Linked DNA regions of Homo sapiens. The protein of the gene in region 7 interacts with the protein of the main gene of each other region in a biochemical or structural test. Each region holds a gene or a part of one and is shown on either strand. Other genes may lie near its edges. The genes, in order: NDUFAF2, CAPRIN1, PTPN7, ENKUR, EGLN2, MEIS1 and TLK1.

Region 1 (4,239 bases), on a different chromosome or scaffold from region 7:
CTTGGGAATATATACTCCTAAATGATATCCTCCTTGTGTAGTCTTACCTCCATAGTAGGTGGAGTCTTTCTTGTTCTTCTAATCCAAGCTAGAAAGAAAAATAATATTTAAATGTCAGTTTCCCATAATTTACACAAACATTTTTATCCATAAAACAAATTTTTTTGAGTACCTACTCCATATTATTTTAGGTACTGGAGATACAGCAGGGAATAAAACAGATTAAGTCCCTTCTCTACTGTAGCACATGTACTACTGAAGGGGTTGCAGAAAATAAACACACAAACATATGGTTGGTGGTGATATGTGTCATGAAGAGAATATAATAGTGTAGAGAAGATAAAGAGGGGACAGTTTCATATGTTTAAAATCATACCTCCTAATCATCTAAATTCGACTGGGTATATTTATGGCATACAAGCCAAACCAAAATACAGCAAACTTCAAGACAATATCAAAATTATATTATTCTGGAAATTTGAATTAGTTACTGTTCAATTTATAAAGGAAGGGACTTAGAAAAGTTTTTCATTTACAGAGGTTTCTTTTCTGATTTGCTCCAGCAAGCAAAAATATCATCAGGCCTTAGCTCTAACACTTGGCAGATGGGCTGCAGAGATAGAGCCCACATTTGTTAAGTGGCTGCTGGGGCCTGGGTACTGTGCTGGATGCTTTGCAGCAATGGGAAGGGAGTGGGGCAGCTGCCTTTAGGGAAGTTATCAGAATCACATGGAAGACAGTATAGTATAGTGCTTATGAGATTCTAAAGTCAGATTTTCTGGGTTCAAATCCCAGCTTCATCACTTACTGTCTGTGTCACCTGGAGCAAGTTATTTAATTTTCTAAGCATCAGGCTTCCCATCTATAAAATGGAAATTATAAAAGTATCTACACTTCAGGGTTGTTGTGAAAATTATATAAGATAATATACATAAATGTTTACTTTGAAGCCTGGCACATAAGTCTAAGTTATTAGTATAATTATTACTATTATTCAATAAATCTCTTAAAAATAAGACTCAAAAAACAAAAGATCAATAATATCTGCTTAGCCTGCAATGTTGTATAGGAGACTGTGAGAAAATATATTGTAGGGAATATGATCTTGAAGGCCACTGTTTTATCATTTCAGTTGATTCACTCTTCACTACAAAATTGAAGAAATAGAAATAAAATGAATTCCTCAAATTTATACATTAAGTAGTAATGGTTGTATTTGAATTCAGATCTGACCCTGTCTCTGGCTCTAAAAACCATCCACGCTCAACTAAGCAGTCTTTCAAAGTTTATGAACAACATGCAAAGAATATTAAACCAGAAAGAGAAAGCCAGGCTAGGTGTGACCCTAACTACATGTTAGAAAAATAAGAATTATTGATCCCATTTTAGAGATTTGGAAACTGAGGCCCAGAGAGATTAAGAAACTTTCCTAATGCCATATAATTAGCGACTGGGAATTAAACCCTGGTTGAACTGGCTCTAAAGTCTTAGCTTTATCCATTCACCAGCCACTATCTCTTGTGACCAGCTCTAACAGCCAGCCTTATTCATTTAGGCACAGACTGTCACTGACTTACAGTAGTTTGACTTAGGATTTTTGACTTTACCATGGTATGAAACCATTCTGTTTTTCATTTCAGTACTTATTCAATGAATTACATAAGTTATTCAAAACTTTATTATAAAGTAAGCTTTGTGTTAGATGATTTTGCCCAACTGTAGGTTAATGTAAGTGTTCTGAACACATTTAAAGTAGGCTAGGCTAAGCTATGATGTTTAGTAGTCTAGGTGTATTAAATGCATTTTCTACATGATGATATTTTCAACATATGATAGGCTTATTGGGACATAACCTCACTGCAAACCAAGGATCATCTGTAATAGCACCAGGACTTGTCTTCATAAAAAGCCCAGCACTGAATGGTTTGTGGGGGTGGAAACAGCAACATTCAACTGCGGGCTTGGGATCAGTCATTTCCCCCTGCTCTATTCTCTCTTGCACTTATCCCTTACATGTATCTCCAATACAGTTCCAGTGTTCTCCATTCTCTACTACTGTTTCTAAATTTCTACCCTTGTTATTCTTTCTGCATTCTGTTTCCTTCTTTCTTTTTTTTTGAGACAGTCTCGCTCTGTTACCCAGGCTGTAGTGCAATGGTGTGATCTCAGGTCACTGCAACTTCTGTCTCCCGGATTCAAGTGATTCTCTGGCATCAGCCTCCCAAGTAGCTGAGATTACAAGTGCTCGCTACCATGCCCAGCTAATTTTTGTATTTTTTGTAGAGATGGGGTTTCACCATGTTGGCCACGCTGGTCTTGAACTCCTGACCTTCAGTGATCTTCCCACCTTGGCCTCCCAAAGTGCTGGAATTATAGGCGTGAGCCACTGCACCCAGCCTGTATTCTGTTTCTATTAGCTTTTACTCCTATTTGGCCAATTTCTAGCCAAAACTTGTACAGATTTTTTTTTTTTTTTTTTTTTGCAATGGTGTCTCACTCTGTTGCCAGGCTGGAGTGCAGTGACGCAATCTTGGCTCACTGCAACCTCCGACTCCCTGGTTCAAGCAATTCTCCTGTCTCAGCCCCCCGAGTAGCTGGGACTACAGGCACTCGCCACCACGCCCAGCTAATTTTTGTATTTTTAGTAGAGACGGGGTTTCACCGTGTTGGCCAGAATGGTCTCGATCTCTTGACCTCGTGATCTGCTCGCCTCAGCCTCCCAAAGTCCTGGGATTACAGGCGTGAGCCACCACACCTGGCCAACTTGCAAAGGTTTTAATCTCCCTTGTGAGTCTGTAAGGTTGTCAAAGGCAGGAGGTACCCATGGGAGATTTATTTTTCTGTCATTTTAAGTACCTACTCTTTTGGGGTATTTACTCTTTTAAATGCTATAAAAGAGGTGGTACTTTAAAAATTATTGAATGAATATTTTGAAAAATATTTGTTCTATCAGGATTTTGATCTTTATTAGAAAATCCAGCTTAGCAATACCACAATTCCTTTGTGTAGTCAAGGAAATAAGTGACTTTGGGAATTTTTCAATTGCCTCTTTATGGCCCAAATTAAAGTTACTTAGATTCAGGCCAAGATGGACGACTAGAAACAGCTAGGGTACGTGGCTCTCATGGAGAGCAACCAAAGGGGCGAGTAAATATAGCCCCTTCAACTGAAACATCCAGGTACTCGCATTGGTACTAATCAAGGAAACAACTCGACCCCTGGAGAATGAAGAAAAGCAAGACAGCACAACAGCCCACCCTGGAGCGACATGGAGCCAGGGGAACCTCCCCCACCTAGGGAAGTGGTGAGTATTCAAATGTGTGACCCTGGGAAACCATGCTTCTCCCATGGATCTTTGCAACCCTGAGTCAGGAGATCTCCTCCTAAACCCACTCCACCAGGGCCTTTGGTCTGACACAGAGCTGTGTGGACTCTTGGCAGAGCAGCCACTCAGGCACGCACAGAGGCGCAGCTCTACATACTTAGGCTCCACACTTCCTGGCAATAGTGACTGCAGCTCTGTCAAGGCAGGAGGTTGGACCTCTGTACATACCCCTAGGAAGAAGGCTGAATCGAGGGGGCTAAGCAGTGATGGTCCGCAGGCCCCACTTCCACAGTGCCTCAAAGGACAAGACCCACTGGCTTAGAATTCCAGCCAACCACTGGCAACAGTGTCGCCCCCTACCTGGGACAGAGTTCCTTGGGGGAGGGAAGGGCCACCATCTTTGCTGTTTGGATAACTCTGCAGTTCCAACCTGTGAACTTTGGAGAGTCCAAACCGACCAGAAACAAAAGGGATCTCCCAGCACAGCACAGTTGTTCTACCAAAATGTGGCCAGGCTGCTTCTTTAAAGTGGCCCCCTGATCTGTTCCTCCTCCCCGGGCAGGAGCTCCCCACTGGGGCCTCCAGCCACCCTGCCCATGTTCTCAGGCTGACAGAGATTTGAGAACTTCCTGAGACAGAGCTCCCAGAGGGAGAGTTAGGCCGCCATCTTTGCTGTTTCGGTGACATAGCCATTCCAGGCTCCGGGCTTTGGAGAGTCCAAGTTGACCAGGGGTGGAAGCGGTATCCCAGCACAGCACAGCTGCTCTATGAAAGCATAGCTAGACTGCTTCTTTAAGCAGGTCTCTGATCCTGTTCCTCCTAAATGGGTGAGACCTCCTAACTGGGGTCTCTAGCCCCCTCCTACAAGTGCATTCAGGCCGGCAACAGGTCTGTATCTCCCTGGGAAGGAGCTC
Region 2 (4,239 bases), on a different chromosome or scaffold from region 7:
AAGGCTTTACTTGATTCTACATAATTAAACATGAAAACTACACTTAGGCCGTGGAACATTACAAATTCTAATTACTCCCATAAAACATTATTTAAGAGGCCGGGTGTGGTGGCTCACGCCTGTAATCCCAGCACTTTGGGAGGCCAAGGCGTGCAGATCACTTGAGGTCAGGAGTTTGAGACCAGCCTGGTCAACATGGCAAAACCCCGTCTCTACTAAAAATACAAAAATTAGCTGGGCGTGGTGGCATGCACCTGTAATCCCAGCTACTCGGGAGGCTGAGGCATGAGAATCACTTGAACCCAGGAGGCAGAGGTTGCAGTGAGCTGAGATTGCACCACTGCACTCCAGTCCTGGGCGACAGAGCAAGATTCTGTTTCAAAAAAAACTGCGAGAATTTTGGAAATCACCCATTCCAACCTAAGTCATTCCATATAAACATCTCAATTTTGTCTTCTATAAAATGAACTGGACTAAATTCTAAGGTGGTTTAAGCTCTAAAAAAAAACTCTTAGGCCGGACATGGTGGCTCATGCCTATAATCCCAACACTTTGGAGGCTGAAGTGGGTGGATCACTTCAGGTCAGGCGTTTTGAGACCAGCCTGGCCAACATGGTGAAATCCCATCTCTACTAAAAATATAAAAAATTAGCCGGGCGTGGTGGCGGGCGCCTGTAATCCCAGCTACTCAGGAGGCTAAGGCAGGAGAATAGCTTGAACCTGGGAGGGGGAGGTTGTAGTGAGCCGAGGTCATGCCATTACACTCCAGCCTGGGCAACGAGAGCAAAACTGTCTCAAATAATGATAATAAATAAAAATTAAAAATCCTCTAAATTTTATAACAGTGTAAGATTATAGCTATGACAAAATTGCTATAAGTTTAACCTTTTGCAAAAGTATTGCAAAAATTAACACTTTTACTAAAGGAAAAGTGTTAGTTTTTCTAAAAGATGAAACAGTACTAGTCTTCATCTAGCCCTAAATGTAAACTAGGAAATTAATTACATAAAATTTTGGCAAATTGTATGCTTAATCTGTAAGTCACACAAAATGCATTCTCAAATATCTGCCACATGGGTAGTATCCTAGAGTACACTAATTTGGCCACGTTAAAACAATACATTCTCAATGTAATACTTAGGCTTCGACTCTCACCCTAGAAAAAGGTACCCATTATCACTTGGGGGAATTCACAGCTTTAAATACTTCCCAGTGCTACACATACAAACACACACAGTCAAGCAAAGGGAAACAAATTAAGCATTACAGCTTTTTTCTATGACAAGGTGAATGCAAAATAATCTTGCCCTCTGCATTGCAGAAGAATAGTTCTTGCAACCCATGGAAAAGCAAACACATCAAGAGATCTTAAATGTCAAAGAAGGCTTCAGGTAATAGCCTCAAGGAAAGATTTTACTTATAAAATAGTTAAGAATGTTTTTATTTTAAAACACTGAACACATAAGTTCTGCACAACAGCTGCAATGAAAATTCTAAGCACAGACACACTGCAACGTTCTAGAAAGAAATGTTACCCTCACAACAACAGCATTCTTTTTAAAGAATACTACTAACTGCAAAGATGAAGTGCAGAAAGCCTTCAGGAAAAAGTATTAAAAACACTACACTTCTGGCTATCAGTTTTGGTCACTTAGTGGTTAAAAAGCTGTCAGGCTATTTTTGCATTTTACGCAAGTGATCATTAGTTAATCTTTCACCTACCAAAGTCACTAGAGTCTAAACCTATTATATTCACAAAGAATATAACAATTTTAAATGTCATCTATTAAAACATCCTTTATTCTATATCACAACTGATTACATCTAATAATATCAAATGAGGTCTCTCTTCAGTTAAAATTAAGACTTGGTTTTGAAATATCTTGCATAGCCTAGGGCCCAGTTCAGCACCAATGAACTGATAAAGAAAACTAGGCAGTTAATCATTCAATTCAATATTACCTGTAAGATTTGCAAATGGATTTTACACTTGATTATCACAGCTGTATTTCTTCTCTTTGCTAAACATTCATGTACTCTTTATAAGCCTGAATTTAAAAACCCACCAAGCCTTTTAGTTGCATTACATAACACGATCATATTTCATCAACATTAAGAGCATGCATTCTCAATGAGCAGATGCTTAGCTTTTTCTTTAATGGCTCAAATTATTAGGAAATAAACAACTTTGTTTTTTAAAGTACAATAAAATTATTTCAATTCTCTGTTTTAATTTAAGCAATACTACATATCCATAGTCATTTTTGCCAGGATATTTGATTTTAAAATCCATAAAAAAAGCATTTTGGTCCAGAAGGCTCCGATAAGAATAGGTCAAGATTGAAATAAAGCTCAAATGTAAGTTGCTAAATGGACTGAAGTCAAAACAAATCTAATTGTAAATAGTACCTCACTTTACTCCACAAGGGTTTCTAAAGAGGAATTCAAAACTGATTTGTAAAGCAATCCTATTTTAGTGCATTAGAAATGCTCACTTATACTTAAAAACAGTTAAGTCTTCTCACAAGTAAATCATCTAAATATAAAAAGGATTTAAACTAAAAACCAGATGTGCTTAAATTTAGGGCAAATCCAAATGCCCTGGGTTTTTCAAAGGGCAAAAGATATAGTTTTAATAGCAATTAAGTCAACATCAATACTGCCAACTTAACTACTTAACATGTAGGTAGAGTTCAGTCTGTGGCTTATCAAAGTCTCAAGACTTAACTGTAACTTGACCTTTTTGCTGCTATCTACCACTTAAAACACTGAGAAGACAGAAAAAAAAGTTACTTTGTGCAGTTTGTTGAATCTCCATTATTAACACGGCAATCTTTCAGTATGTATTAGCCTAGTTAATAACCTATGTAATAATTACATTATTTTCTCCTTTATGACTTTAGGGGAGGCCCGGCATGGTGGCTCACACCTGTAATCCCAGCACTCTGGGAGGCCGAGGCGGCTGGATCACCTGAGGTCAGGAGTTCTAGACCAACCTGACCAACAAGGTAAAACCTGTCTCTACTAAAAATACAAAAATTAGTTGGGCGTGGTGGCAGGTGCCTGTAACCCCAGCTACTCTGGGCGGGGGGCCGAGGCAGGAGAATCGCTTGAACCCAGGAGGCGGAGGTTGCAGTGAACCGAGATCACATCGTCGCACTCCAGCCTGGCGGACAAGAGCGAGACTTCTCAAAGAAAAAAAAATTGCCTGGGGTGGTGGCGCACACTTGTAATCACAGCTACTTAGGAGGCTGAAGCGGGAGGATCACTTGAACCCGGGAGGTGGAGGTTGCAGGAAGCCAAGATCATCCTACCGCACTCCAGCCTGGGCACTCCAGCCTGGGCAACAGAGATTCATCTCAAAAAATAAAAATAAAATAACAAAATCACTTGAGGGTAGGGTATGACAGAGTATAGTAATTCACATACACCTATACACATTTAATGACCAGTCATGGTTCAAGTCCTCAGGAGGGGCTTATAAACTAGATTTATATTTTTTTTTCAGAAGTACTTGAACACTAGATTCTAACAGCCACCTCACAACTAAATTGGCTGCCAATCAGCACCTACCTTTATATTAACTTCTCTGAGGAGTTATCTTTCAGTCATTAATGTCTCTACACTTTATATCACTAATCATTAATGTTCATAATTAGTATTAACACATTATTAATGTTCACAATCATTAATATTTTATGTTCAATTACTGTCCTAGAAAAAAACATTTCCAAGAAATTCTAAAGAATCAAAAACTCAAGTAGCAGCCAGATCAGCAGGCTTGCTTACTGCATTAAAATTTTAAAAAGAGGCCGGGCACAGGGGCTCACTCCTGTAACAGCACTTTGGAAGACCAAGGCGGGCGGATCAGGAGGTCAAGAGATCGAGACAATCCTGGCCAACAGGGTGAAACCCTGTCTCTACTAAAAATACAAAAAATTAGCTGGGCGTGGTGGCAGGCACCTGTACTCCCAGCTACTTGGGAGGCTGAGGGAGGAGAATCGCTTGAACCCGGGAGGTGGAGGTTGCAGTGAGCTGAGATCGCGCCATTGTACTCCAGCCTGGGCAAAAAGATCGAAACTCCGTCTCAAAAAAAAAAAAATTTAAGAAGATACCCAACAGGGTAAACTAAATCATGTGTCAGACTCAGAAGATACTGGCCTTGGGCATGCTTATTCCATTCAACATTTGAATGTAGCTACCTTACACTTAAAATACTTTTGTTACTTTCTTGATGTA
Region 3 (4,239 bases), on a different chromosome or scaffold from region 7:
AATAAACATTTATAGAGCACTTGCTATCGGCTAGACTCTCAATATATCTTACTGAATTTAATCCACTCTACATTCCTACAAGATAGATATTATTATGCCCAATTTACAGATGATACCACTGAGGCTTACGGAGGCTAGGTAACTGGCTTATAGTGGTACAGCCAGGAAACAGCAGAACAGGGATCTGATCCTCATTCCAGAACCCGTATCCTTTCCATCATGTGGCTTCTGAGTGTGCGTGTTCGTGCATGTGTACGTCTACACGTGTGGTTCACAGCTTCAGGCTGACCCCAGCACCTGAGGCATCTAGGATCTCCCCAGAGCTCTGCTCTCACTGCTCCCCACCCCTTCCCCTGTGCTTCCACCTTCCAGGGCTATGACGGGAAGGAGAAGGTCTACATTGCCACCCAGGGCCCCATGCCCAACACTGTGTCGGACTTCTGGGAGATGGTGTGGCAAGAGGAAGTGTCCCTCATTGTCATGCTCACTCAGCTCCGAGAGGGCAAGGAGGTAGGAGGCAGAGCCACAGTTCATGATGAACCCAGAAAGTGCTATGCCCACCCCACCCCCACCCCACACACAGGGCAGCTCAGAACCAGAGGTTTCCCTGGGAGCCAGCCCCAGCTCATACCTCTCAGAAAGTTCCCTGAGATATAGCCCTGGGAGGCTGTCTATGGCCAAAATACGGGATAGGGTGAGCACTCTGCTTGCAGGTATCAAGCTCAGAAGAGCCAGGCTCCCTGTTGCTGACCTCCCATCCAGTAGGGGTGGAGGATGGGGAGGAGATACCAGCCCCTCTCTGCTGCCCTGTCACCTGCTCCAGCTGACCCTCTTCTGACTCCCAGCTCCCTCCCTCCTAGAAATGTGTCCACTACTGGCCCACAGAAGAGGAAACCTATGGACCCTTCCAGATCCGCATCCAGGACATGAAAGAGTGCCCAGAATACACTGTGCGGCAGCTCACCATCCAGGTACCACCCCCCCGGAGCCAGGCCCAGTGGGAAGTTGGGCCGCCCACAGCATCTCTGGGACTCAGGCTGGCTCTTCACTAGGAGCCAAGGGTTTGCTCTTCTAAACCATCTTAAACCCACATCTATAGCAGAAAGAGAAACTTGAGCACTGTCCTCAGCCTCTAGTCTAATAGGGCAGAGCCAATAAGCCAAATAGGACTACCGGGAAGTACTCACCCATCTGTGTAAATGGTCAGGCGGGGACAGGCAGGATCCAGGAGCAGGGCCAAGGGAAGGAGAGGAGGTTAAAGGAGATGTGGAAGGCCAGGTGTGGCGGCTCATGCCTGTAATCCCAACACTTTGGGAGGCTGAGGGGGGCGGATCACTTGAGGTCAGGAGTTCCAGACCAGCCTGGCCAACATGGTGAAACCTTGTCTGTACTAAAAATTACAGCTGTTTGGAAGGCTAAGACAGGAGAATCACTTGAACCCAGGAGGCAGAGGTTGCAGTGAGCCAAGATTGTGCTACTGCACTCCAGCCTGGGTGACGGAGTGAGACTGTCTGTCTCAAAAAAAAACAAACAAAATAAAACAAAAAAAGAGAAAGAGATGTGGAATAACATGTACACAAGGGCTTTTAAAATGCCTTCTATTATTTTATGGTGTTTTATATTTTTGAAAGCATTCCTCTATCAACTCATTCTCCTCCAAATATCCTGGCAAGTAAACCAGTAAGATATCACTGTTCCCATTTTCCAGGTGAAGAAAATGAGATCAAGGGACTTGCCCAAAGTCATGTGCTTATGGGAAGCAGAGCCAGGGCTTGAATTTGGGTCTCTCCCCTCTCCCAGGACAATGCTCCTTCCCGGGATTTTGAAGGGGGAAGTGGTGGAGAACAATGAGCACGAAAATTGCAACCTAGCTTGCTTTGAGTAGATGACCCCCCCACAGGGTAATTCCAGCCCTTGCCCTCCTCAGGCACCAGAGAAGAAGGTAGACAGTGCCCTCCACCCTGACCTTGGTTCTCATGCCTTGTCTCCAATCCAGTACCAGGAAGAGCGCCGGTCAGTAAAGCACATCCTCTTTTCGGCCTGGCCAGACCATCAGACACCAGAATCAGCTGGGCCCCTGCTGCGCCTAGTGGCAGAGGTGGAGGAGAGCCCGGAGACAGCCGCCCACCCCGGGCCTATCGTAGTCCACTGCAGGTGCGTGGCCCTCCCTTCACTGCAGCCTGTGGACTGTGCTCCCCTCCCCTGCCCCCTGGGTCTCTCCTGGGGAAGGGTCTGAGCAGAAAAGCATCAGGCAAGCCTAGTCCTTACTCAGACATGACTCGCAAGGCCATTCAGCAAGGGCTCTGTTCTTTTTACCTCCTTCACGCAGAACCCAGACATCTGGGCTGGACACCCAGGCCCCATCCATAGAGGGGATGGAATATCAGGAAGATCCCAGTCAGCTGCAGGAGGACATAAACAGGATTCCAGCTGTTGGGGAACTCATTTACTTATTCAACAAATATGTATTGAAAATCCTATTATTGGCCGGGCACGGTGGTTCACACCTATAATCCCAGCACTTTGGGACGCCAGGGCTGGCAGATCACCTGAGGTCAGGAGTTTGAGACCAGCCTGGCCAACATGGTGAAAACCTGTCTCTACTAAAAAATACAAAAATTAGCCAGGCGTGGTAGCACACACTTGTAATCCCAGCTACTTGGGAGGCTGAGGCAGGAGAATTGCTCAAACTCTGGAGGCAGTGAGCCGAGATCACACCACTGCACTCCAGCCTGGGTGACAGAGCGAGACTCCATCTCAAAAAAGGAAAACCTATTTTTGTCAGGCACGGTGTTAGCTGCTAAGGAGACAGCTATGAACCAAGCAGTTTGGTTTCTTCCCAGACAGTTTTATAGGCTGGTGGGAAAGAAGGCAGATTAGGCTGGGTGCAGTGGCTCATGCTTATAATCTCAGCACTTTGGGAGGCTGAGGCGGGAGGATCACCTGAGGTCGGGAGTTCAAGACCAGCCTGACCAACATGGAGAAACCCTGTCTCTACTAAAAATACAAAATTAGCCACACATGGTGGCGCATGCCTGTAATCCCAGTTACTCGGGAGGCTGAGGCAGGAGAATTGCTTGAACCCAGGAGGTGGAGGTTGTGGTGAGCTGAGATCGCACCATGGCATTCCAGGTTGGGCAACAAGAGCAAAACTCTGTCTCAAAAAAAAATTAAATACCACGCAATGTGATGAGAGCTGTGATGGGGATATTATGGGGACCATAGAACCAAGTCTCCTAAACCAGACTTTGACCAGAGAAAGTTTTCCAAGAGAAAGGCCATCTAAGCCAAGCTAAGACCTGAAAGGTGAATTAGCCAAGTGAAGAGAGGGAAGGGAACACGTTCCAGGCAAGTGGAAGAGCACATGCTAAGGCCCAGAGAAGAAATGTGAAAATGGATACACTGCTGGGAGCAGGGTTACAGGTTAGGCCCAGAGGTTGTGTGTGGGGTAATGATGAGAGATGGGTTTGGAAGGCCAGTGAAGGTCAGATGATGAGGGGACTTGGAGGACTGGCTAAGACACTTGGATTTGCCATTTTAAAAGAACACTTTGGCTATAGAGTGAAAAATGGATTGGGCCAGAGTGAGGGGGTGTCGTAGGGGACAAGACTAAAGAAAGGGACCATTTGGGAGTGCATATCCTAAATAAAACAGAGCACAGAGGCAAAAGGCATGACACAGGGGCCTCCCAGCCCACCCACAGGTAGCACTGGGACATGTGCAGGGAGGTCATTAGGGGCTCACGCAAGAGGAAGGGGAGGCCTAGGGGGTTTTGAAATAAAGAGAGGGCACGATAGAGAAAGCAGAACAGAGTGGAGAGAAGACTGTGGGAGGGCGCCAAGGTGGGAAACAGAGGGGCCGGGCGTGGGCTGCGTGGAAGATGAGTCTGAGCTGAGAGGAAGTCAAGGTTAGATAAGGAGGGCTCGAGGGTCAGCACACCCACAAGTGGGAAACTGTCTGTTGGAAACCACTGTAGACTCAGCAGAAGGGAGATCGTCAAAATGTCCACAGGGACCAAAAGGTGGCCTGCAACAGGCTTACAGTAAGGCTGGTAAGAAATGTAAACTCCTCCCATGCCAATTAAAACCTGCCTCCAGCAGGGCCCCCAAGGGGACTGGAAAGCAGAGTACTGCTACCTGCCTCCATCTCCAGAGCCCTATCCCCAAAATATAGCACCTGCAGGTCCCATTTCTTTCTCCATAGTTTGGGGCCTGGCTCTCATATTCCCTGGTCTCCCAT
Region 4 (4,239 bases), on a different chromosome or scaffold from region 7:
GTGACATTTCCAACTAACCAAAAATATCTTTCAGAGAATGTTTATTAAAATTGTTAAATATGTTAATAATCAAAATTAAGGAAAACAATAACTTTTATCTACTGAACTATATGGAATTGTTTACTATGGGTTCTTTGTAACTTCATCCCATTACATTTGGACCAAACACAGATTGCAGAAGAATGAGAATCAGCAAAGTAGACAATGTGTCCAATGAGAGCACTAATAATGATAACATAGATGATCATCATGAACACCATATTTAAATTATTTGAATTTCAGCCCTCTTATTAATATACCACAAGGCTACCTTTTTATTGATGTACTTTGGAACTAGTCCTGAAGGCTCAAGATCATGCTTGTCTCCAGTTCTTTTATCAACATAAATTGGTTTAGGCTTTTTAGCCACTCCCATGATGATATCAGCTGCATTTGTATTTATAAAATTTTTTCCACTCTGTATTCCCATGACAGGATGATCAGTCTTCAATGGCACAGCAGGCTTTTTGGGCACGTTCCGATCAAAGTTTTTTTCTGTTAAATATAACATTTCTTTGTTAATATTAAACTACAAACACTGCTACTCAGTGCTATTTATAATATCCAGATATTTCACCACTTGTATATTGAAGTTGCAGTCATAATATATTTAAATATTTAAGATAGAAGTTTATGCTTACCCCCAAACTCATTGACTTGTAGACATTAAATATGCACAGCTTTTTACCTGTCAATCAGGCCTCAATAAAATAATTTTTTAAAAAGAAAAAAAGTCAGTAATTAAAATGGAAATAAATTAAGGGCAACATAATCAATTAATATGTTGAGGAGGCCGGGCACGGTGGCCCACGGTGACGTGGGCAGATCGCTTGAGCTCAGGAGTCTGAGACCAGTCTCGGCAACACAGTGAAACCCCATCTCTGCAAAAAATGCAAAGTTAGCCAAGCATGATAGTGTGCACCCTTAGTCCCAGCTACTCAGGAGGCTGAGGTGGGAGGATTGCTTCAGCCTGGGAGGCGGAGGTTGCAGTGAACCGAGATCATGCCATTGTACTCCAGCCTGGGTGACGGAGTGAGACTCTGTCTCAAAAAAGATCATATATGTGTGTGTGTGTGTGTGTGTATATATATATATATGAACAGTATATAAATACAAGGAAGAAGTATTTCTTGCTTATTGGCCGTTTTTACACAGCCTCTTCAGTTTGATCATTCCCATTGATCTATTTTAATATAGCCAAATGGTTTGCCACAATGCAAAAATGTGAAATAATTTATTTTTAAGAACTGAAAGCAACAACTGTCTTGAAAATGCCTTTTCCAATTTTAACCCCATCACAATTACTAAGGACTGACTTTATTCATTTCTGCATCATTTGACCTTTTTTATTAGTTTATATAACTTTTATTATCAGCAAAGCCAATACTTACAGTTAAAAGTCTATGAACTGGATTAGCCTCTTGTTAGGGGCTGAGTTATGTCCTCCTAGAATTCATATGTTGAAGCCCTAACCCCCAGTATCTCAGAATATAACTGTATTTGTAGAAAGGTCTTTAAAGAGGTAATTAAGTCAAGATGAGGTCATTAGAGAAGGCGCTGATCCAATATGACTGGTGTCCTTAGAAGAGGAAATTTGAACACAGACATACATATAAGGAAGAACACGTAAAGATACAGAGAAAAGATAACCATCTACAAGCCAATGAGAGATGCTTTAGAAGAAACCAACCCTGCTGCGTGTGGTGTTGCATGCCTGCAGTCCCAGCTACTTGGGAGGCTGAGGCAGGAGGATTGCTTGAAGCCAGGAGTGTGAGGCTGCAGTGTGCTTTCATCATGCCTGTGAATAGCCACCACACACTCCAGCCTGTGCAACATAGACCCTATCTCCAAAAATAAAAACAAACAAAAATACTCCTAAAAAAGAAAAGCAAAAATCAACTAATCCTCTGACATCTTGATGTTGGACTCCTAGTTCTCCAGAACTGTCCTCCAGAACTCTCATTGGACCGAGTTTTTAAAGCTTTTGCAAAACCCTGCATTCCTTTTTTTTTTTTTTTTCCTCTTTTTTTGAGACAGGGTCTCCCTCTGCCACCCAGGCTGGAGTGCAGTGATGCAATCATAGCTCACTGCAGCCTCAACTTCCTGGGCTCAGGTGATCCTCCCACCTGAGCCTCCCATATAGCTGGGACCACAGATGTGCATCAGCACACCTAGCTAATTAAAAAAAATTTTTTATAGAGATAGGGTCTCACTTTGTTGCTCAGGCTGGTCTCGTACTCCTGGGCTAAAGCAGTCCTCCTGTCTTGGCCTCCCAAAGTGCTGGGATTGCAGTCATGAGCCACTGTGCCCAGCCCTAATACCCTGAATTGATGAATTATTCTAAAGGCCAATGAAATTTTGGGTTTGCTTTTGCCTTACAATGTTTACAAAATGATAGGCTTCTTCCTTTTTTCTTATTTGACACAAAGGATTTATATATATATATATATATGTTTGTGTTATATCATATGTTTAACCCTAGAGAGGCTATATGAGGACCCAAGGGATACCAGTGGTCCTAAGGCATTGAAAGCATCAAATTCCATTTTAACATTTTCCTATATTCTCAAATGGTATTGTTGGTCATAGAATGCTGGGTCACAACAGGCCAAGACTAGAGGAAGATACAAAAGAGACTTCTGAAGTCACGAATTAAGCATGAATGTTGTATTTCCACACTTGCTTCTTCCATCTTGCCATCTTGCCTGATAGTGCCCTCACCTTTTTTCATGAGATATGGGTTGAGAGAGGATTTGGGGACATTAAATACTGCCATAAAGAGAAGTAGTTTCACTTTTGTTAAAATGTACATCGCTAGCCGGGCTTGAGATGTTGCATTATTTCCTCAATGCCAGCAGACATAAAAAGCCAACATTTTGAAGAGACAGACTCGTTTCTTTTTTCTTTTCTTTTCTTTTCTTCTCTTCTCTTCTCCTCTCCCCTCCCCTCCCCTCCCTTCCCTCTCTCCCTCCCTTCCTTCCTTCCTCTCTCTCTCTCTCTCTCTCTCTTTCTTTTTTTGAGATGGGGTCTCACTTTGTTGTCCAGGCTAGAAGGCTGTGGCTTGATCATAGCTCACTGCAGTTTCGAACTCTTGGGCTCAAGCGATCCTTCCACATCAGCCTCCAGAGTAGTGAAGACTACAGGTGCATGCCATCACACCTAGCTAATTTTTTTTATTTTAATTTTTTTGTACGGACGGGGTCTTGCTTTGTTGCCCAGGTGCTCTCTTTTCTTTATTGCCCTAAGACATCTGGGAAGACATACTTGGGCTATGAAGAAATTGCTTCCATACATACCTGTCACACATCACTTTTCATCTACTCTCCCTTTCCCTGATAGCTTTCTTTCCTGAAATCATTCAAAAGACTCCATAACTGGGATCAAGTATATAATTTTTGAGGCCCAGTAAAAAATAAAAACACAAGGCTACTTGATCAAAAATTAAAAATTTTAGTACAGCAAGAGCACAGCATTAAAATAAGCATGGGGCCCTAAGCTGGTTCTACCACTTATTCATGAAGTCTCCTCCATTACATCTAACTCATTGCAGTCCAGTTAGTCTTAAAGGTCTGGGAGAGTAAAAGCCCGTACTCAAAATGAGCCCAGTAGTTGCTTCAACAACTGGTAGTAATGGTTGTAATTTTCATCTCTTGGAGAAAAGGCCAGACAGGGTTTAGATGCTGGGCAATCTTGCCCATTAGTCAGATACTGTCCCTGGGGTCTTGACTTTTCCTATAATTGTTGTTTATAATTGAAGCCCCACAGCTAGGGACTAAGATGGTGATGCATGTGGGCTTCATTGGATAGTCCAAACCCAATCTAAAGTCTATTCTGGGGGCAATTTATCACACTCCATTCTATTTTTCTACCCAATTCTCTACTTCCACTTTCTCCTAGTCAAATTCTGTTTAATATGAGGTAAAGCTGCTATCACCTGTGCATGTTTAATATTCATCAACAATAAAATAATAGTTAAATCACCTGCTAATGCTTTTAATATTAAAAATAAAGCATGATAAAACCTACTGGGTGGTAGAGTTTTTTCCTTTGAATGTTTCTTTAGGAAATCCTTTGGAGAAGGTACTTCAACTTTTGCTGGTCCCATAGTTTTCATTGCAGTTTTAGCTTTTTGCATGTCATCTTTTACAGTTGCCTTAAAAATGGATATGTACCTAAAATTGAATTTTAAAAGTTGTAGCA
Region 5 (4,111 bases), on a different chromosome or scaffold from region 7:
CTTTTAAAATTTTTAAATGGCATTTCAGCCTGTGCTCCAGTTCTCCATGTGGCAGGCACTGTGCTGGCTGTCTTCCCAGACACTTGTTATCTTGTTCACTTGTTCCACAACAACCTGTGAAATAGCTGTGAGCTCCATTGGATCCATGGATGAGGAACCTGAGACCAGGAAGTCACCTGCCTGATGCCACAGCTCATGTGGCAGCACTGAGACTTGAACCAGGGAATTGTGTCTGCAGAAGTGGCTGGGCCATTTCCTTTACCTCTCAGCCACCTTTCTGCCAGCTCCCTGATGACAAACATCCCGGGGCCCTGGCCACAGCATTGTAGGGCTGGGTCAGGGGAGTGGCAACTGTCAGGCAGAGGAAAGAACCCTGTAGACAGAGAAACCAAGCCCTGCAATGAGTCCTGTTAGATCTCCAGGAGTTGGGGCTCCAGAACCTCCCAAGTTATGTTCTCAGAGAGATTAATTGCTACCGCTGTAAACAGCAGTGTTTATTACCCCTGCTGTACACATCAGGCAGTTGAGGCCCATTCAGGTGTTGGAACTGGCTAGGGTTACCCAGCAAATTATCCTTGGAGTTGGAATTAGGTCTTTCTATTCAGACTGTAGCTTTTGGCTCCTGTTCGGAGGTCTATGGGACAGATAATTTAGTGGGGATTCTTTGTAGTCCAGGGCAGCAGTTCTTAACATTGCTGCATGGTAGAATTACCTGGGAAGCTTTACCAATTTCAGGCCCTTCCTTAGGCCAGGTACTTCAGAACCTCAGAGCTCCCCAGGGGGCTCCACTCCACAGCCAAGGGTAAGAATTCCTGGTCTAGGGCTGTGAGGCCACCTCCTTGCACACCTGAAAATGTTTAAATTGGTATTATTCTACTGAAATGGCTGAGGTGGGGTTTGGGGTATCTTGAAACAAATCAAACTCTGTTACTAATTGAGCCCTAGCTGGGTGCCAGGCCCCAGGTATGTGTGTTGGGAGGGAGTGGGCTCTTGAGGCCCAGGAGCTGAGGTTTCTGATAGACTTGGGGATGGGATTTTGGCTGAAAAAGAAAGTCTTTTGGGGCAGGAGCTTGGAACCCTTGACCCAAGGAGTCATGGGGAAGATGGGGCAAGGAGGGGTGGGAAAATAGGTAATTCATGGCTGCTTCTCTAAGATGTGCCTGCCTAGCCCCAGTAAACCTACCTCCCTCCATCCCTGCCAGGCCATGGTGGCGTGTTACCCAGGCAACGGGCTCGGGTACGTAAGGCACGTTGACAATCCCCACGGCGATGGGCGCTGCATCACCTGTATCTATTACCTGAATCAGAACTGGGACGTTAAGGTAGGGGTGAGGGTGAGGGTGAGGGTGGCGCTGGGGCTAGGGCTGGGGCGGGGGTGGCGTGCGTCCACTCCATTTTCCACTCTCAGCCCAGATTCTGGCATTCTCCTGTTTCTCTTCTCAACACACAGCGGGCAGTGCGATCTGCCGGCTCTTCCTGGGAAATGGCACCTCCTCCTCTCTAGCGGACTGTGTGGTGGGAACTCCCCTCTTTCCGGGAATGGTGCTGTCTGCCCAGCCCCACCCGGCCTTGTAATGAACACTTTCCCCCTTTTCCTGTCTTTAGTAGCTTCCTGCCCATCTCCATGGTGATGCAGTCTCTGGGTTGTCATTCACTTTGAGAGCCCGAGGGGTGGGAGGGAGTGATGCAGGCAGACGCTGCGCCTCCTAGTGGGCTCCCGGGGCACCGTGGGAGGCAGCGGCTCCTGGCCGTACCAGCTAGCCTCATCCTTTGGCCTGCCCCCAGGTGCATGGCGGCCTGCTGCAGATCTTCCCTGAGGGCCGGCCCGTGGTAGCCAACATCGAGCCACTCTTTGACCGGTTGCTCATTTTCTGGTCTGACCGGCGGAACCCCCACGAGGTGAAGCCAGCCTATGCCACCAGGTATGACCTGTACTTCTGGAGACGCACCCAGGTGCTCCCCCTGTGACAATGTCCTGTCAGAGCCTCAGAGTGACTAGGGAGCGACGAAGTATTGAGAGGGGGCCTAGGTGGGAGCAGAACCGGGTGGCTCAAAAGGATGGCCGCCTAGTGTGTGTGGATATGGTAGCTGGAATTGCAGAAAACTAATGTCCAACCACCCTGGTCTCCAGGTACGCCATCACTGTCTGGTATTTTGATGCCAAGGAGCGGGCAGCAGCCAAAGACAAGTATCAGCTAGGTACCTGCTTCCCTCCCTTCAGTCCTTCCTATTCTGTGGGCCCTCTTGGGCCTGATGCCACCCCATCCCCCTCATCAGCCTCTTGTTAAATCCCACCACTCATTTTTCTTCATCTCTGCCCACCTTCCTTAGCCCACTCTCCTGGTACCCCAACAGGAGCCCCATTTCTTCCTGGTCCTCTCCCCATCTCCCCAGGTTTCCCTTGGCTTCTTTGTCCTTCTGATGACTCACTGTCTCCTGTCCCCTCTCACCCCCAGCATCAGGACAGAAAGGTGTCCAAGTACCTGTATCACAGCCGCCTACGCCCACCTAGTGGCCAGTCCCAGAGCCGCATGGCAGACAGCTTAAATGACTTCAGGAGAGCCCTGGGCCTGTGCTGGCTGCTCCTTCCCTGCCACCGCTGCTGCTTCTGACTTTGCCTCTGTCCTGCCTGGTGTGGAGGGCTCTGTCTGTTGCTGAGGACCAAGGAGGAGAAGAGACCTTTGCTGCCCCATCATGGGGGCTGGGGTTGTCACCTGGACAGGGGGCAGCCGTGGAGGCCACCGTTACCAACTGAAGCTGGGGGCCTGGGTCCTACCCTGTCTGGTCATGACCCCATTAGGTATGGAGAGCTGGGAGGAGGCATTGTCACTTCCCACCAGGATGCAGGACTTGGGGTTGAGGTGAGTCATGGCCTCTTGCTGGCAATGGGGTGGGAGGAGTACCCCCAAGTCCTCTCACTCCTCCAGCCTGGAATGTGAAGTGACTCCCCAACCCCTTTGGCCATGGCAGGCACCTTTTGGACTGGGCTGCCACTGCTTGGGCAGAGTAAAAGGTGCCAGGAGGAGCATGGGTGTGGAAGTCCTGTCAGCCAAGAAATAAAAGTTTACCTCAGAGCTGCACACATCTGACTCCATCTGCAATTTAGGGCCTTTATTGACCGAGGAGGGTATGGAGGTTTGAGGGCCAGTGAGCCCACCATAGTGGAGCCTGACCTCAGCAGGCCACTGGCTGGAGCTGGAAGTCTGGGGGGACACTGCCCAGGCCAGTGCACTGCAGGTGAGGTTGATGGTGCCAGGGCGTACCACAGGGAGCAGGCAGAACCTCTGTAAGGTGGCCGTAAGGAATAGGAAGATACCCGAGTGGGCCAGGCCTGTGCCCAGGCACATCTGCTTTGCCGGGTACACAGGTGCACAGTGAGCACCAGGTACCCCAGAGCCAGTCCAGGCTGGTCCCCTTCCTCCTCTGCCTGCACCTGAGGCAAAGGGCATGAAAGCATCATTGCCCTGGAACTTGCCCTTGTCCAGGAAGTTGGTAGGGTTGAAGCAGTCTGGGTCTTTGAATTGAGTGGGGTCCCGGTGTGCAGTCACAAGCAGGGGAATCACAAAAGTGCCCTGGGGATACATGCAACTTGGGTTACCTGCGGGCTTGGTGAGCACCTGCACCACCTCCATCCAAGACGCTTTTTAAAAGCCCAAGGGAATAGGCCGGGCAAGTAGCTCACGCCTGTAATCCCAGCACTCTGGGAGGCTGAGGACAGATCACTTGAGGTCAGAAGTTCGAGACCAGCCTGGCCAACATGGCGAAACCTGTCTCTACTAAAAATACAAAAATTAGCCAGGCGTGGTGGTGGGTGCCTGTAATACCAGGTACTCAGGAGGCTGAGGCAGGACAATCGCTTGAACCCAGGAAGTGGAGGTTGCAGTGAGCCAAGATCATGCCACTGCATTCTAGCCTGAATGACAGAGCCAGACTCCGTCTCAAACAACAACAACAAAAAGCCTAAGGGAAGGCAGAGCTGCCTTCCTGCTCCAGGGGTAACTGATTGTGTTTTGGTCTGCACAGCGCACACCTGCTGATTCTGGCTGATCTCATGCACCCGGGTCCCGCACGGGATCCCCAGACTCAGTGGGTACCTTTGGGCAGACAGTGG
Region 6 (3,984 bases), about 100 Mb from region 7:
GACTTTAGGGTCTTTCTTTGTATTTTAACATTGTATATAAATACTACACAACTAGGCAACGTGTTTCCTCGAGGACTGGACTCTGCGAATTACATAATGAGGGGAAAGAGGTAGGGGTGGGGAAGGGGAAGGGGTGGGGGCAGACTGCAGCGGGCGGAGGGGAGACTGGGGCGAGCAGCGGATGAATTGCAGACCAGTTGCCAAAACTTTTTTTTTTTCCCTGCTGCTGCTGCTGCGGCTGCCTTTGCTGCTGCCTTTGCTTTGAATGTGGGTAACTAGGAAACAGCAAGCCGTCTGAGAAGACGGAATTTCCAACGTGTAAAATGTTCTTAACGGAACCATTGAGCGAGTGCAATAAGGCGTGAGGGGGAACTAATCTTCCCATTTAAATGTTTGTGGCAATTTTATCTAAATGAATTTTAATGCTAAACGAGGGTAATTCCCCATTTGTAGCGCGTTTACTTCTCTTTCCTGTGCTTCTAAAGCAGTCGAACATCATGCAATGAACAATAACAATAAAAATACTGTCAAGGCATATTATTCATTTTGAATGTGTTATAATTACAGCTGATTAAATATGATAGGGTAAAATATTTTTAATTTTTTGAAAAAAAAATTTAAATCATATTAAAAAGTAGTCTCATTCAGCCAGAGCCAGCCCCCTTTCCACCCCCCCCCCACCCCCCCACCCCCCCACCACCAAATAAAAATAAAAACCAGGTACAATTTTGTGCCCTTGTTTAGAGGAGGGCGTTTTGTTTTTGCCTTTTAGGAAACATCAAAAACACTCTCAGCACCTCTATTATTTGCCTCTTTCGGATAAGTGTCCTCAATAACCTTCGAGCTGGCTCTGAAATTTACAAGAGGAAAAGCTAAAATAGCATTAAGAGGGGAGGGCATCGAGGCAGGGGAAGAAAGGAACTGCGAAGAGCGAGGCTCTCACCTAAATGGCTCACAGAGGGGGAACTCACGGAAATAGCAGTTTATTTTTTCTAATTCCTGGACACTGCTGATCTCGATTCTTCAGAGTCACCATATTCCCTAACTACTCTTCACTTGTAAACCTCCCTCCCCTAGCGCCTCTCTCTTTCTCTCTGTCTCTCCCTCTCGCCTCTCTCCCTCTCCCCACCACACCTCCTCCCCTTTCTTTCCCTCCCCCACCCATCCTGAGCCTCCTCAGGAATAAAGGCTGAAAATAACCAACTCACCCGGGCATGTACTGGAGAGGAGGAGCAAATAGACAGTTTATAAAGTTTATTATTAATTGTTAAAGTAAATAAATGGTTGTTAACTGCTAGCAACCACCTATCAAAAGAGAATGATTTCACTCACATCGACTATTTAGGTAGAGGAAGAATTGCCACTAGGTCAACAAGGGAGATTTAAACAATCCCATCTATGGGCTGGGGAGGGGTAGAAGCGCTGCCAGAGATGGCTGCAGTAGGCTGAGCCTTGCTCTCTGCGCATCCACGTGTTTAGAAACAAGGCCCCATCAGCAAAAGGTGAGAATGCATTGCTACTCCAGCAGGTGAGTCAGTCAATCACACATCACCTAGTAAAGCCAACCCACAGCTGGTTTCTCTTTTCGAATAGAAAATAGAATTGCTAAGGGCCGGTTTATAGGGTGACTTGGGCCTGAATGTCAGACTTGAGTTTAAGGCTCTCTCTCCTCCGACCCATCCTTTGTTTACAAAGCAATCACTACTGAAAGGCTTATTTTTTAAAACGAATTTGCCTTAATTAAAATATTTGTATATTTTCCTTAGCTTTGGGAAGCACTTTTTATAGCAGCAATTTTATTTAAATAAAATTATAAGCTATTCCAGCTTAAACATATTATTTTCTACCATTTAGCCGGCTGCCATGCAGAAATCTTGTACAGCTGTTCTGGAAAATTGGTTAATAACCAGTTTTATCCAATGAGAACATAGAGCATATTTATAAAAATTAGATTTTGAAGTCTGGTCTCTTCAATTCATGTAGTTAATTTCCTAATAAACATATACTGCTCATCCTAGGTAACATCCTTTAGTAAAAGACTTAACTTTGTACTTAGGTTTGCCTTTATGTGCAAGAATAATTTCACTGATATTAGATGAGTAATTCTGTTGGATGTAATTCTGAGTCTAGAGTTAGTTTAGTGCCTTTAGGCCTCAAATTTGCTGATATTAGGAGTTCATTAAGTCAGCTTAAAGAAATCAGTGGTTATTATTAAACAACTTACTTTGCGGTTAAAATTGTCAAATACATATATGGCTTAGGGAGCCAAAATTAATTTTTATATTTACTGTATTAATCTTTAAAAATCTGGGGGGCAGTAAACAAATTTTTCAAGCAGTGGAGTCAGCATGACAAAAATAATCTTGTTTTTATTTTAGATTCAGATTTCATTACTGCACTCAAACGACTACAACTGGGCTTGGCGTTATTATACAATCCAAACTGTTTCCATCAGAAACGCTAAGACTCAGTGTGCAATGATTGTTATTAATAATTAGCTCCTTGGTTTCTTGATAGAAAAAGGCTATCAACAAGCATTTGTTTATCCACAACAAAAAGTATAATTAGCTTATCCCACTTAGTAAATCTTGTATGCATGCCAACTCATACCAAACTGCTACTTTTACAAAAAAAAATTGCAATAATACAGTTCATTTTTCCAGTCCTTTTTGCACAAAATTTATTTACAATGTCTACATAAATGCTCCAAGGTGGGACTATGAAAAAATACACACATGACCGATGCTTTGCTCAGAAATAAAGTCAACATATTAAAAATAAATCTTCAGTCTATGTTTTAGAGCTGCTTAAAACAGGAAGTGATGTATAAGGTGGTGGTTGTTGCATGGGGACAATGATGCTTGATGTGACAATTAGGCTTCTAAACACACGGCCTTTTGGTTTCCATGCCTCCTCCTACCAGTCTCCTTAAGACACTGCCTGCAACAGCTGATTAATCATTGTTGATGACTGCAGTTTTTCCCATCCTTCCCGATTTACATCTGTTCAGGCCAATTCAAATATGGTGAGTAAATGAATTAGACATGCAAATTCAAGCCCCAGGCTAGAAAGAGGGAGAGAGAGGAAAAGAGAGAGAAAGAGAGAGAGCGCGCGCATGGCTGAAATCCTAGGCGAGAAGAAAGATTCTTCTGCCTGATAGTTATTTTAATGCTCTAAAAATCCTGCAAATCAGACCTTCCTGTCCCTTGCAGGATAACTGTAAGGCTTTTTAATGTAAGGAGGCTTCTGGAGGAAGTGAAGAGCTATGGAAACAACACACATAGTGTGGAAAAATTTCACATTTTTTTTAAAAAATCTATAAGAAACAACGTAATATGGATAACAGTATAATAGCATTTACAATATTTCACTCTTTGTTCTCTTAATGTCTTATATAGTTATTTAGCATGTCCCCCAAATTGACTTCAGTTGGTATTTCCTGCTTTTTAAAGGTCCCTATGAAGAATTAGGGATGCTCCTTGGTCCAGAGTAGATGCCAAGAATGGAACTCCACAGTCATTGCAGAAAAAACATGATTTGAAATCAGTCACCATTGCAGACAATGCATATTCCCTTAAGCTACTGAGCATGAATGTCCATGACTTGTCCACTCATTGTTGGGTCTCCTGTATTAAGAACTGTGGGGCTTGATGCTGACATTGGCATTCCAGGGTGGGGCGGTCCTCCATGCATCATCACTGTTGGGTGGTGAGGGTGTCCAGGAATGTACGTATGCATGGGGGGCCCATGACGCAGCTGAGCAGGATGGGGGGGCATCTGGGGTTGGGTATAACTTGGCTGTCCCATACTCACACCCATTGGACCACCCCGGGCTACATACTCCCCTGGCATACTTTGCAGCCCTGTAAGAAATTCAAAAGAAAGAAACAAAAAGAAAATGTTATGAAAAAGCAATAGTGTGGTCCTGGCTATGACAATCCTATAAAAGCCAGAGAACCCTGTGATTAAGGGAACATGGTTTTG
Region 7 (4,239 bases):
CTACAAAGATGAAGGAGGCAGAGACAGGGGCAAGGATTGAAAAACTACTGGGTACTATGCTCACTACCTGAGTGGTGGGTTCAATTGTACCCCGAACCTCAGTATCAAGCAATATACCCCTGTAACAACCTGCATATATATTCCCTGAAACTAAAATAAAAGTTGAAATTAAAATAAATAAATAATAAATAGAGTTTACCTCAGAAACGCTAAAGCCACATGTTCAGTTTAACTGATAAATCAGTTATTATATCTGAGGCAAAAGAGAAGTTTTTTCCCTTAGGAATAGAGAGCAGGCAAGTGCTGAACATTAACATGTAAGGATTGGGGAATGGGAAAAAACTAAGTAGGAAAATCCTAGGAAATAAACACACACACAAATCTTCCAGTGAAAATTAAATTTTCAACAATTTCCCTCTCAAAACATCATCTGTAAAGCTAAAGGTTCAATTAATATCTCGGAAAGTCAGAATTAGAATAATATATTACATTCTATAGATGACTGCTAATTAATCAAGAAATTACTAAGCTAAAACTGTAATACTCTTGGTTTCATATCCCTTTCAAAGGTACTAAATTCTATGATTTCAGAGTAGCGAGGAACTGGAGAGCATAATTACAAATCTATAATCTTTTAAAGTAATGAAAACCCAAACGAATACTAAAAACTTTTAAATGTTAAGAATGACTAACTTCACAAGATTCTGAAATGCAAAACCATCTGTCCATTGTTCAGTAAATGAAGCGCCATGTCTAACTGTTGTAAAGTGCCCGAGGCGTAATCGATCTTGCATACTCTTCTCTCTGCTTGACAGCTTTTCTTGTGTACTCTGAAAAGGAGAAAAAAAATCATCACTCAATTGTATTCATTAATTTATAAAAGCATACAAAGCAAAAGGGGCTAATGAAGGGAAAGCGAAAATTTACTCAACTTTTAGCCTACCTTTTCAATAAGAAGTTTCTTGCTCATTGATATGCACTTATTTAATCGTTCTTTGTATTTTTCAAGTAATTTTTGTTGTTCATCTATTTGCCGTCTGAGATCACAGTTAGCCTATGACATAAGTAGAAAATGCAAGAGGTCTAGACTGGGGAATATGAAAAGCTTAGAAATAGTTTTAATGTTCTAAATAAATTATATACAGATAGGACTAATAATATTAAATATCTGAGTATGATACGAGAAAAAAAAAAAGCCTACTTAACCATGAGATAATACTGTTAAATGTTACTTAAGTGTGTAGTGGAAAGTACATACAGGGAAATTTGTATCCATATCCATACATTCAAATCCATACTCTAAGGTTAACTTTGGCTAAGTTATAAGAACTTTAGTTCAGCTTTCTTATTTCTAAATAGAAGCAACACAATCTACCTCACTTTGTTAAAAATAACTAAAATATGGTATATAAAGTGTCTATCACTTAAAAATAAATGTGAGTTTTCCTCTATCTCTTATAATTAACAAATTAAATGTGGGTTTTCCTCTATCTCTTATAACTAACAAAATATTTTCTCCACTGAACTTATAAATGACATACACAAGTTGCCTACCCAACAACTGTCCTCACCATTCTTCCTTAGCAATAGGATACTAATTCTGTTCACTTTGTAGGTGGCCATATGCTCAGAGAAGAGGCTTCCTTCTAACATCAAAAGATGAGTCTGATTAGTACAGTGGCAAGAGAATAACCTATAGGGCTTGTTACAACAGATTACTGGGAACCATTCCCAGAGCTTCTGAATCAGGTCTCAGGAAGGACCTGAAAATTTCCGTTTCTAATAAGTTCTCCAGTAATACTGATGCTCCTGGTCTGAAGATCACACTTTGAGAATCAAAAGTCTAGGCCAACCATGGTGGAATCCACAAGACAAGGGCACAAAATCTTAAAAGTGCTGAGAGAAAAGAATTGCCAACCTAAAATTAGATACCCAACACAGTTGTTTTTCAAGGAAGAGGAAACAGAATTTAGCACCAATAGACCCTCAGCAATTCAAACAAAATCTCAACACTGTGTGTGTATGATGCATATGCAACTTGAAACCTGATTCTAAAATTTCTCTAAGACTGTGAAGGGCCAAAAATAGCCAAAAAGAAGAAGAGGATATCTGTTTAACCATGTATCATGACTTAACATAAAGCTACATAACTATGATCACCCAAGCCTCCTCCTTCCTTAATAATGGAAATTCAATGTTTTATCCTGGATTGCTATCTGCCTAGCCAAATGACTACAGTTCCCAGCTTCCCTTAGAGCGAAGGATGGTTAATGAGATGCAAGCAGAAGTTGTTCAATGAGATATCCAAGAAGGCTGCACACAGAATTGTGCTTTGTGTTCTCTGCTCCCATCCTCCCTCCTGTTATCTGCTTAGAACACAGATATAATTGTGACCCTAATAGATATATTGAACCTTGATGTGACCTTTGAGATATAAGCCATGAACTAACAATGACAAGGTCCCTTATGATACTGAGGAGTAATAATATCTGAGCTGCCCACTTCTGTTCTTCTCTTGAAAAATAAGCTTCTATCTCATCTGAAGTACTGTTATTTATGTTCACTGTTACTAACAGCCAAAAACAACTGATAAAAATTGTTTTATCAACAATGATAAAAAGATGCTGCAGTACTTGTGTAGAGACACAAACAGAACAAGGAAACATGATACAGAACACAGAAACAGATCCACCTGTATACTGGAAACAAGATTTTATGATGATAGAGCTGGCAGTATAAGAATGAGCTTTTAATTAAATGGGGATGAACAACTGGTTATCCATATAGAAAGAAATTGAAATGAAACCCTACATCATGCCATACCCAAAACCAATTTCAGTAAGACTAATAATTTATATTGAAAGATCAGCTGGGCATGGTGGCTCATGCCTATAGCCCCAGCACTTTGGGAGACCAAGGTGGGAGGATCACTTGAGGCCAGGAGTTCAATACCAGCCTGTAGACTCCCAGCTCTACAAAATAAAAAAAAATCAGCCCGGAGTGATGGCATGAGCCTGTAGTCCTAGCTACTTGGGAGCCTGAGGTAGAAATATTGCTTAAACCCGGGAGTTTGAGGCTACAGTGAGCTATGATCCCCCACTGTGCTCTAGCCTGGGCGACACAGTGAGACCCTGTCACTTAGCGGGGGAAAAAAAAGACCAGACCAAAAAACCTTGAGAAATAACTGGTATTATACAGTAAAATGGAAAATGCGTATGCCCTGTACTCTGGCTATGTCTTTCCTAAACATATACCACAGAAAAATTCTTTCATATGTGCCCTGAAGACATGTACAAAGAATGTTCTTAGAACTGTTTATACTAGAAAAAGTAGAAATAAAATGTCAACTAAAAGCAGAAAAGATACAGAAATTATGGTATACTTGTAACACCTTACAATATTGCAATGAAATGAACAAACTACAGTTATACTCATCAAAGTGGATGACTCTCTGATATATTTCATTGAAAACAAGCTGGGCAAAAGGGTCCATACTGGAAAATTTCACTTAACGTTCAAAAACCAACTGAAATAATATGTTGTGAAGAATGTAAGCACATATTTAATACAACCATAAAGAAACACCAAGGCATCACAAATACAAAATTTAAAATAGTGGTTAAATGGTAAATGGGTGTGAGAAAGTAAATATGACAGGATCAGGAAAAAGACACACTGGATGTTTTAAAGACACTGTCAAATACAGTAGGATCACAGGTGTTGGTTTTATCGAGTTTCTACACCAGTAGTTCTCAATGCTGTCTTAAATTAAAGTTATCTGGGAGAGCCTTTAAAACTACCAATGTCCAAGACCTACATCATCATCAACTTGATCAGAACCCCTCAGGGTAGAGTTTCAGGCATTAGTACTTTCACCCTTCCCAACTGGTGAGTCTAAGGAGCATCAAGGGGTAAGAACTGCTGCTTTAAACCCTTACATTCTTAAGTATACTTCTAGATGTATTTTTAAATAAAGCTTCCATTAAAAATCCTACAGAACTGCAGCAGTTACTTCATCGTATAGGTATCAGATGTCAGGCATATAATAAAATCAATAAACTTTAACATGAAATGGCTATTTGTGTTATGGTAGTTGGTCATATAAATGTTATTAACTTCCAGTTCTCCAACAGTTTCTCAATTCCCAATTTATTGAAGATCTAATAAAATATTTCACTTTAAAATTGGTATTTTTCAATCATGTACTTAAACTAACAGAAAAAGCTTATTGAGTTCTAG

Evidence for each region.
Region 1: the proteins of TLK1 (region 7) and NDUFAF2 form a complex in vitro, tested with the Homo sapiens proteins (one large-scale study listed by BioGRID).
Region 2: the proteins of TLK1 (region 7) and CAPRIN1 form a complex in vitro, tested with the Homo sapiens proteins (one large-scale study listed by BioGRID).
Region 3: the proteins of TLK1 (region 7) and PTPN7 form a complex in vitro, tested with the Homo sapiens proteins (one large-scale study listed by BioGRID).
Region 4: the proteins of TLK1 (region 7) and ENKUR form a complex in vitro, tested with the Homo sapiens proteins (one large-scale study listed by BioGRID).
Region 5: the proteins of TLK1 (region 7) and EGLN2 form a complex in vitro, tested with the Homo sapiens proteins (one large-scale study listed by BioGRID).
Region 6: the proteins of TLK1 (region 7) and MEIS1 form a complex in vitro, tested with the Homo sapiens proteins (one large-scale study listed by BioGRID).

Annotation. Positions count from the first base shown.
Region 1 is NC_000005.10:61,094,841-61,099,079, reverse strand, and holds part of NDUFAF2 (NADH dehydrogenase [ubiquinone] 1 alpha subcomplex assembly factor 2), read right to left. Parts: intron 89-4,239; coding exon 48-88; intron 1-47. UniProt on the Homo sapiens protein: Acts as a molecular chaperone for mitochondrial complex I assembly. Complex I functions in the transfer of electrons from NADH to the respiratory chain. The immediate electron acceptor for the enzyme is believed to be ubiquinone.
Region 2 is NC_000011.10:34,054,295-34,058,533, reverse strand, and holds part of CAPRIN1 (caprin-1), read right to left. Parts: intron 1-4,239. UniProt on the Homo sapiens protein: mRNA-binding protein that acts as a regulator of mRNAs transport, translation and/or stability, and which is involved in neurogenesis, synaptic plasticity in neurons and cell proliferation and migration in multiple cell types.
Region 3 is NC_000001.11:202,150,457-202,154,695, reverse strand, and holds part of PTPN7 (tyrosine-protein phosphatase non-receptor type 7), read left to right. Parts: intron 1-372; coding exon 373-510; intron 511-845; coding exon of another isoform or gene 846-860; coding exon 861-971; intron 972-1,996; coding exon 1,997-2,154; intron 2,155-4,239. UniProt on the Homo sapiens protein: Protein phosphatase that acts preferentially on tyrosine-phosphorylated MAPK1. Plays a role in the regulation of T and B-lymphocyte development and signal transduction.
Region 4 is NC_000010.11:24,995,336-24,999,574, forward strand, and holds part of ENKUR (enkurin), read right to left. Parts: intron 4,212-4,239; coding exon 4,066-4,211; intron 535-4,065; coding exon 311-534; intron 1-310. UniProt on the Homo sapiens protein: Adapter that functions to localize a calcium-sensitive signal transduction machinery in sperm to a calcium-permeable ion channel.
Region 5 is NC_000019.10:40,805,353-40,809,463, forward strand, and holds the end of EGLN2 (prolyl hydroxylase EGLN2), read left to right. Parts: intron 1-1,202; coding exon 1,203-1,322; intron 1,323-1,785; coding exon 1,786-1,922; intron 1,923-2,131; coding exon 2,132-2,199; intron 2,200-2,456; coding exon 2,457-2,512; 3' UTR 2,513-3,082; downstream 3,083-4,111. UniProt on the Homo sapiens protein: Prolyl hydroxylase that mediates hydroxylation of proline residues in target proteins, such as ATF4, IKBKB, CEP192 and HIF1A. Target proteins are preferentially recognized via a LXXLAP motif.
Region 6 is NC_000002.12:66,571,125-66,575,108, reverse strand, and holds the end of MEIS1 (homeobox protein Meis1), read right to left. Parts: intron 3,864-3,984; 3' UTR 1,240-3,863; downstream 1-1,239. UniProt on the Homo sapiens protein: Acts as a transcriptional regulator of PAX6. Acts as a transcriptional activator of PF4 in complex with PBX1 or PBX2. Required for hematopoiesis, megakaryocyte lineage development and vascular patterning.
Region 7 is NC_000002.12:171,049,121-171,053,359, forward strand, and holds part of TLK1 (serine/threonine-protein kinase tousled-like 1), read right to left. Parts: intron 1,055-4,239; coding exon 944-1,054; intron 831-943; coding exon 694-830; intron 1-693. UniProt on the Homo sapiens protein: Rapidly and transiently inhibited by phosphorylation following the generation of DNA double-stranded breaks during S-phase. This is cell cycle checkpoint and ATM-pathway dependent and appears to regulate processes involved in chromatin assembly.